3 separate regions of the Homo sapiens genome follow, and regions 1 and 3 are each linked to region 2. Evidence: fine-mapped expression QTL. A gene starts in region 2. Each other region holds a variant in brackets. All regions are shown on one strand. Distances are between the middles of the regions. Region 1 overlaps AP2A1 (adaptor related protein complex 2 subunit alpha 1). Region 2 holds the start of SLC17A7 (solute carrier family 17 member 7). Region 3 overlaps ALDH16A1 (aldehyde dehydrogenase 16 family member A1).

Evidence for each region. PIP is the estimated chance that this variant, and not a neighbour inherited with it, causes the effect. A credible set is the group of variants that fine-mapping cannot tell apart.
Region 1: its variant is the best candidate, but not a certain one, in a credible set for the expression of SLC17A7 in prefrontal cortex (ROSMAP, PIP 0.67).
Region 3: its variant is the best candidate, but not a certain one, in a credible set for the expression of SLC17A7 in aorta (GTEx, PIP 0.68).

The regions. Positions count from the first base shown.
Region 1 is chr19:49,769,218-49,771,972 of GRCh38, reverse strand. The region is part of intron 1 of AP2A1 (adaptor related protein complex 2 subunit alpha 1); the gene reads right to left. Among named protein-coding and RNA genes, the nearest start is that of AP2A1, 3.6 kb to the right of the region's middle. RefSeq lists an enhancer at 1-568. The variant G/A (reference allele first, on the strand shown) is at 1,012.
Region 2 is chr19:49,440,145-49,442,899 of GRCh38, reverse strand. It overlaps SLC17A7 (solute carrier family 17 member 7), which reads left to right and starts at 1,373. Exons shown (of 12, transcript NM_020309.4): 1 at 1,373-1,582. The coding sequence starts at 1,521.
Region 3 is chr19:49,466,687-49,469,441 of GRCh38, reverse strand. It overlaps ALDH16A1 (aldehyde dehydrogenase 16 family member A1), which reads right to left. Exons shown (of 17, transcript NM_153329.4): 15 at 876-1,061; 16 at 456-578. Among named protein-coding and RNA genes, the nearest start is that of FLT3LG, 6.2 kb to the left of the region's middle. RefSeq lists an enhancer at 409-608. The variant G/A (reference allele first, on the strand shown) is at 1,103.

The sequences.
Region 1 (2,755 bases), 330 kb before region 2:
GATAGAGATGCCCGCCATGGCGTCCGGAAGTCAGGACCTTTGCACTTGCCCCGCCTCTGCCTTCACAGCTCTTCTCACTGCCCTCAGCCTAGGTAACTCCCCTACTTCCTGCCCACACAGCTCCAAAGGTCTCTTGTGAAGCAAAGCCAGGCCGCAGCTCGCTGACCACACAGAATCCCCATTCTCTCAACACCATGGCCCTCTTCCTCACTGGGCTTAGGACAGCTGCAAATTCTTTCCCCATTTAAAAAAAAATCGAGATACGGCCAGGCGCGGTGGCTCACACCTGTAATCTCAGCATTTTGTGAGGCTGAAGCAGGCAGATCACTCGAGATCAGGAGTTCGAGACCAGCCTGGCCAACATGGTGAAACCCTGTCTCTACTAAAAATACAAAAATCAGCGGGGCATAGTGGCGGGCGCCTATAATCCCAGCTACTCGGGAGGCTGAGGCAGGAGAATCGCTTGAACCTGGGAAATGGAGGGTGCAGTGAGCCAAGATCGCGCCATTTTTGTGACTGTCACAAAAAAAAAGAGATACAATTCACATACCATAAAATTGACCCTTTTACAGTGAACAATTCAGCGTTCTTTAGTACATTCATGATGTTGTGCAACCATTACTACTATCGAATTCCAGGACCTTTCTTTTTTTTTTTTTTTTTTTTTTTAAGAGATGAGGTTTCACTATGTGGCCCGGGCTGGATTCGAACTCCTGGGTTCAAATGATCCTCCTACCTCAGTCTCCCAAGTAGCTGGGACTACAAGCATGTGCCGTGTCCAGCTGTAGGCTTTTTCATGAACCCAAAAGAAGCTCTGAATGCTGCCGGGCATGGTAGCTCACACCTGTAATCCTAGCACTTTGGAAGGCTGGGGTAGTGGATCACCTGAGGCCAGGAGTTCGAGACCATCCTGACCAACATGTAAAAACCCCGTCTCTACTAAAAGTACAAAAATTAGCCAGGTGTGGTGGCACACGCCTGTAATCCCAGCTACTCAGGAAGCTGAGGCAG[G/A]AGAATCGCCTGAACTTGGGAGGCAGAGGTTGCAGTAAGCCGAGATCACCCCATTGCACTCCAGCCTGGGCGACAGAGTGAGACTCCATCTCAAAAAATAAAAAAAGAACCTATGCATTCATGAGCAGTCACTCCCCATCCCACCAGCCCCTACTCTAGGCAACCACTAATCTTTCTGTCTCCATGGATCTGCCTATTCAAGATACTCTATCAACATGGAATCATACAACACGTGGCCTCCTGTGTCTGGCTTCTTTCACTTGGTGTCATGTTTTCAAGGTCCATCCCTGTGGCAGCATGTAGCAGGACGTCATTATTTTTTAAGGCCCGGTAATATTCCACTACATAGACCACACTTTATTTCTCAGTTGATGGGCATTTGGCCCGTTTCTGTTTTCCGGCTATCATGAATAATGTTGCAGTGAACATCCGTGTCCAGGTATTAGTGTGAAGGACTACTGCAATTTGTATGTTGCACCTTCTCCCCCACAGGGCTGGGAGCTTCATGGAGGGGGTGGACAAGTCTGTCCTGTTCACCAGTGTCCCCAGCATTCAGCACAATTCTTGAGACATACCAGCCGTTCAACATACGCTTGCTAAGAAAAGGCTCCTGATTCTCCAGCCCTAATTCCTGTGGCTAAATTACTACCAGTGCCCCAAGCCTGCATCTCCCCTCTGTCCTCTGGCTCGTCTCTGGGGTCCTGCAGTGACGGGACGATCTCTTTCCTTCCCCAACCCCCATCATCAAATCCCTTTGCAAATCCTGACAGTTTTTCCTTCAAGTTGTATCCCAGGCTGGGTGCAGTGGCTCACGCTTATAATGCCAGCACTTTGGGAGGCCAAGGCGGGCAGATCACTTGAGGTTGGGAGTTCGAGACCAGCCTGGCCAACATGGGGAAACCCTGCGTCTACTAAAAATACAAAAATTAGCCAAGCGTGGTGGCGGGTGCCTGTAATCCCAGCTACCGGGGAGGCTGAGGCACGAGAATTGCTTGAACCTGGGAGGCGGAGGTTGCAGTGAGGTATGATCGTGCCACTGCACTCCAACCTGGGCAACAGAGACTGTCTCGGAAAAAAAAATGTATCACCAACCCATTTCTCACCAGTCCCTTCTCACCCTGTTAAGCCAGCACCATCTCTCACCCAGAGGCCTGCAACACCCTCCTAATTTGGTTCCCTGCTTCCATGGCTACCTCTAGAATCTGTTCTCACAGCAGCCAGAGGAATTATCTTAAAACATCAATCGGTCACATCCCTCCCCTGCTCAAAATATTCTCATGCAGACAAAGGCCAAAGTGCTCACCATGGCCCAGAAAGCCTTTCCCGATCCTGTTCCCACTCCCCTCCACACCCGCCCTCTCTCCCCTTCACTCCCACAGCTTCAGCCACACTGACCTTCTCCCTCTCGCTCGAACACATGTCAAGCATGCCGCAACCTCAGGACCTCTGAATGCACCTCCCTGTGCCAGGACCCCTTTCCTCCAAAATCCACAGGGCTTGCTCCACTCAGATATGACTTCCTCCACGAGGCCTACTGAGTACCCTCTCCATCCTAGTCCCTCTCCCGACCATTTCCTCCTTATTTTTCTTCACAGAACCAGTCAGGTCCTGAGGTTGTATATCAGGGTGTTCCCTGTGCATATGTTCTGTCTTCCTCGGGGAAGGGAGCTCCCAAGGACAGGAGTTTCTTTTTCTTTTTTTTTATTTTTGGAGACGGAGTTTCACTCTTGTTGCCCAGCCTGGA
Region 2 (2,755 bases):
GGGAGGTCGAGGACAGATCCCAGTGGCGAGGGTCAGAAGTCGGAGGGCGGGGACAGATCCCATGGGGCCGGGGCAAGACTGGGAGGGTAGGGAGAGATCCAGGGGGCGGGGAGAACTGGGTGGGCGGGGACAGATCCCATGGGGCAGGGGTAGAACACAGAGGGCGGGGACAGATCCCAGGGACGGAGGCCAGAACTCGGTGGGTGGGGACAGATTCCAGGGGGCAGAGATAGATCCTGTGGGGAAGGGGTAGAACTCAGATGGCAGGAACAGATTCCAGGGGGCAAGGACAGAACTGAGAGGGCGGGAACAGAGCCAGGGACAGATCCTAGGAGAAGGGGACACAACTCCAACGGTGGGGAGAGAACTCAGAGGGCGGGGGCAGAACTCAGGTCAGCGACAGATCCTAGGGGAGGAGACAAATTCAGAGGGCGGGTGAGGATGCCAGGGGGTGCGGATCACAATTTAGGGGGCGGGACAGATCTCAGGGGGTGGAGACAGAACTCAAATAGAGGAATGGATCCCCCGGAGCTAGGGAAGAACTCAGAGCGCGGACAGATCCCAGAGGAGCAGAGAAATAACACAATGGGGAGACTATGGGGTCGCAGCTGGCACTGGCGGGGTGTGTGAAATATAACTGTGGGGGGCGGAAGCCAGAGGGAAGAAAATCGGGGTTAGGGAATGAAACTCAGGGAGAGAAGCAACAGGGAGGAGAGAGACGCCGGAGGGAGAATAGAGCTGGAGGAGTATGGGATTCAAAGGGGAAAGATGGAAACTAAGGAGGAGATGGAGCTCAAGGGTGAAGAACCCGGGTGGCGAAAGGGACTAGAGGGGGACGACAGGTGGATCGAAGTAGGCGTTGGACTTGAGGGGAAAGAATTTCCCTTGAATGAGAAAACAAAGAACTCCCTGGATGAGACTATTGGAACTGGGGACGAGGTGGGATGGGGATGGAATTGCGGGGTGGGGGCGGGGAGGAGTGAAGGAACTGGAGGATGAACGCAGAGGGAAAGTCAGAGAAGACAGGATTGTAAGGGACGCAATTAGGGGGAACAGAAGTCGGGGAGAGAAATGATGGGGATGAGAACTCAGGAGAGGAGAGAAAATCTGGGTAGGAGCCAGGGGTGATGGAACAGGGATAGGGGGAGTAGCCTGGGGAAGGAACAGAATTGGGGGGCGTGAACTCGGAGGCGTGAGTTCAGAACCCACAGGCGTGGTCTTGGAAGGCTCAGGAGGGGACAGGACGAGGATGAAAGGGCTGCGAGAGGGGGCGGGTCTGACAGACGAGGGGAGGGGCCTGGTGGGGCCGGGGCGGGGCCTCCCGCGCCCCGCCCCCGGCGCTGAGTCCTGTGACAGCCCCCGGGCCGCCTGCACTTGCAGCCTCCTTCCCCCCGAGCGGAGCTGCGGGGCCGGCCGGGCCGGGGCTGGACCCCGGGAACCCGGACGCGGCCGCCCGGGCCCGCGGGCGGGGGGATCGGCGGGGGGGACCCGCGGGGTGACCGGCGGCAGGAGCCGCCACCATGGAGTTCCGCCAGGAGGAGTTTCGGAAGCTAGCGGGTCGTGCTCTCGGGAAGCTGCACCGGTGAGCCTGGCGGGGGTCCCGGGAGAAGAGTGGGAGGATCTGAGGAGGATGCTAATTCCCACCTGGGCGCAGACTGACAGATGAACGGGCGATACCCCGGCATGGGGGTCCACCCATCTGTCCAGTTTTCTGCCGTGGGCTCCGACGGCGCTGTTCTCCCTGGTCGAGCCTTGTCCATTATCCTGTTCCTTTTTCTGCACCCCACCCCACCCGGCTCCACTCTCTCTGGTGCTGTAAATGCCTCTCTCCCGGGTCTCTGGCTCCTCCCCCACCACTTCTGGGTCTCTGTCCCCGTCTCTTTCTGGATGTCTCTGCCCCTTTTCTCTCTGGGTCTCCGTCTCCCTCTTTTTCCAGATCTCGGCTCCCTTCTCTCTGGGCCCCTCCTTCTCCCTAGATCTCTGCCTCCGCTTCTTTGCGTCTCTGTGCCCCTCTCTCTGGTTCTCTGGCCATTGCTCTCACTGGATCTCTATCAACTCCTGACTCAGAGTCTCTGTCCCCCTCTTTCTGGGTCTCTCCTCTTCCCTGGATCTCTGGTCCCCACTTCTCTGGGTCCCTGTCCCCGTCTCTGTGTTTTAATTCTCCCACCATGGGTCTCTCCGTCTCTCTGTGTCTTTTTCCGTTTCTGTCTGGCATGGAGTTTAATCTGCAGCTAAAGCGGATTGGGGCTCATAGCCCGTTGTCCTTGAGGGGGTGAGGCTGGGTGGAAGAAGTCACAGCACCCTGGGTCCCTGGGAGAGAAAGGAGTTAGAGGCCAAAAATTTCGGCTCCTGGGGTAGGACAGCCTTCCCAAAGGATACAGGCTGGGGCTGACAGGGACTCCCTCCCAACCAGGTTGATGACCCCAGTGAACCGAGTGTCCCTCAGGATAATCTGGACACCTCCCCACAGGCTCTCACCCCCAACCCCAGCTTTGGCTCTAAGTCAGATAAATTACTCAGCTGCGGAAAAGCCTAAAAATATATCTGGCCACAGTGCACGAAGGAGATGGCCTCATCAGCACCATGCCCCTGCCGCCGTGCCCTCAGGCCCTGTCCCCTTGGCCCACAGCCCTGACCCTGTGTTTCGCTGAGCTTCAGTCCACCTCGCTAGGCCATGGGGGTCCTTTGCTAAGTCTAACATCAGTCTTGCTTGCTGCAGATCACCTCTTAGCTCCAAAGTTACCCCACCCTCTAG
Region 3 (2,755 bases), 27 kb before region 2:
CCCCAGTCTCTGCAAAAGAAAAAAATTAGCTGGGCATGGTGGTGCACGCCTGTGGTCCCAGCTACTCAGGAAGCTGAGGTGGGACGGTGGCTTGAGCCTGGGAGGTTGCGGCTGCAGTGAGGTATGATTGCATCTGGGTGACAGGGTGAGGTTCTGTCTCAAAATAGAAAAACAAAGCGTAGACTGTGGGCCTCCAAATCTAGGGTGTGGTCCTTAGCAACGGGCTGTCCCCTGAGACGAGGTCTTTGGGCTAGGCAGCTCTCAGGCCCCTGTTGCTAAGGACAGCCTCTTCCTTAGTAACTTGAGTCCTAAGGGCGGGGCCTCAAAACCTTCTTGTCAAGGAGTTTCTCCCCTTACCAACAGGAGTTCTAAGAGGGCGGGGCTGTGTTTCCAGAAAAGGAGGAGCCTGTTTGAAGTTTGAGATGCTGAAGATGGCAAAACAGAACAAAGAGCACCTGGGCTGATCCGAAATACCACATGGCCTGGACGTCTTGGTGCAAGGCCAGGCAGCGGGTCAGATGGTCCCGGTCTCCTGTCACCACGTTGGCCAGGCCTGCTGGGAACACGGTGGCCATGTCCTAGGGGATAGAGAGAGTGAAAGGTTGGGGAGGCCGTGGGGGCAGGGCAAGGAGTGGGCATTCAGGGGGTGCCCATGGGAGGGAAGGGGATGGGGGGTCATGGAGGAGAAAGCCCCAGGCCTAGGGTGAAGAATGGGCACTGGGTCCCCAAGGAGTGAAGGTTTGGGTGCTGGGGCTGGGGGCAGCATGGGTACCACGGAGGGTGGGGTAAGAGACAAGCTCCTGCCGACTTTGGGGCGCCTTTTTCTGCTGCCCTGAGGCTACGGGGAGGAGAGGCAGGAAGGCAGGGGGCTATACCTGGCAGACCTCCAGGGCCAGCAGAGGACAGGCCGCACTGGGCACCATGACCACAGTGTTGCCGTAGGCCAGGGCGGGAGCCAGCAGGGACACGAAGGCAAGCAGGGGCCACTCGTCCGGACACACCACAGCCAGCACACCCAGCGGCTCCCGCAGGCGCAGCACAGGGCCTCTCAGCCCGGCTACCTGCAGGGACAGGTGGGTCACGTGTGGGGCAGGGGAGCCCC[G/A]CCCGCAGTAAATGAGAGATCCAGTTCCTCTACATTCTCCCCAACACTTGGTGTTGGCCCAAACCGCACCATTGTGGAAGCCCCTGCCATTTCGCAGACGCTGGTCAAAGTGAATCATTCCACGGGGGTTCGGGCGGTGAGAAACATCCTGCATAACCGCCTTTCTTTTTTTTTTTTTTTGAGACGGACTCTCACTCTGTCGCCCTGGCTAGAGTGCAGTGGTGCGATCTTGGCTCACTGCAACCTCCGCCTCCCGGGTTCACGCCATTCTCCTGCCTCAGTCTCCTGAGTAGCTGAGACTACAGGCACCTGCCACCATGCCCGGCTAATTTTTTTTTTTTGTATATTTAGTAGAGACGGGGTTTCACTGTGTTAGCCAGGATGGTCTCGATCTCTTGACCTTGTGATCTGCCCACCTTGGCCTCGCAAAGTGCTGAGATTACAGGCGTGAGCCACTGCGCCTGGTCTATTTTCTTTTGTTAAAAATAAATATGGTGTTGGGGGGTGGGAGGCAAGGGGAGGGAACTTAGAGGGCAGGTCAATAGGTGCAGCAAACCACCATGGCACGTGTATCCCTATGTAACAAGCCTGCGCGTTCTGCACATGTATCCCAGAACTAAAGTAAAATAAAATTTAAAAAAAAGAAGGCCGGGTGTAGTGGCTCACACCTGTAATCCCAGCACTTTGGGAGGCCAAGGTGGGCGGATCACGAGGTCAGGAGATCGAGACCATCCTAACATGGTGAAACCCTGTCTCTACTAAATATACAAAAAAAAAATTAGCCGGGTGTGGTGGTGGGCACCTGTAGTCCCAGCCACTCGGAAGGCTGGGGCAGGAGAATGGCGTGAACCTGGGATGCAGAGGTTGCAGTGAGCCGAGATTGCGCCACTGCACTCCAGCCTGGGCGACAGAGCGAGACTCTGTCTCAAAAAAAAAAAAAAAAGAAAGAAAGAAATATGGTTTGGCCCATGATATAGTTCAGATGTCCCACCCAAATCTCATGTTGAAATGTAATCCCTGGCCAGGCGCAGTGGCTCACGCCTATAATCCCAGCACTTTGGGAGGTCAAGACAGGCGGATCACTTGAAGCTAGGAGTTCAAGATCAGCCTGGGCAACATGGCGAGTCTCTTGTCTCTGCAAAAATACAAAAACACCCAGTCATGTGTGCTGGTGTGTGCCTGTGATCCCAGATACTCAGGAGGCTGAGGTGGGGGGCTCACTTGGACCTCGGAGGTTGAGGCTGCAGTGAGCCATGATTGTGGCACTGCACTCCAGCCGGGTGCCAGAGGGAGACTGGTGCCAACATGCCCAGCTAATTTATCTATTTTTTGTGGAGACAGGGTTTCACTGTGTTGCCCAGGCTGGTTTCAAACTCCTGGCCTCAAGCGATCCACCCACTTTTGCCTCCCAAAGTGCTAGGATTACAGGCGTGAGCCACCATGTCTGGCCAGGTATTTTTTGTTTTTTGTTTTTTTTTGTGACACAAGGTCTCACTCTGTCACTCAGGCTGGAGTGCAGTGGCACGATCTCGGCTCACTGCAACCACTGCCTCCTGGGTTCAAGCAATTTTCCTGCCTCAGCCTCCTAAGTAGCTGGGACTATAGGTGCCCACCACCGTACCCAGCTAATTTTTTGTATTTTTAGTAGAGACC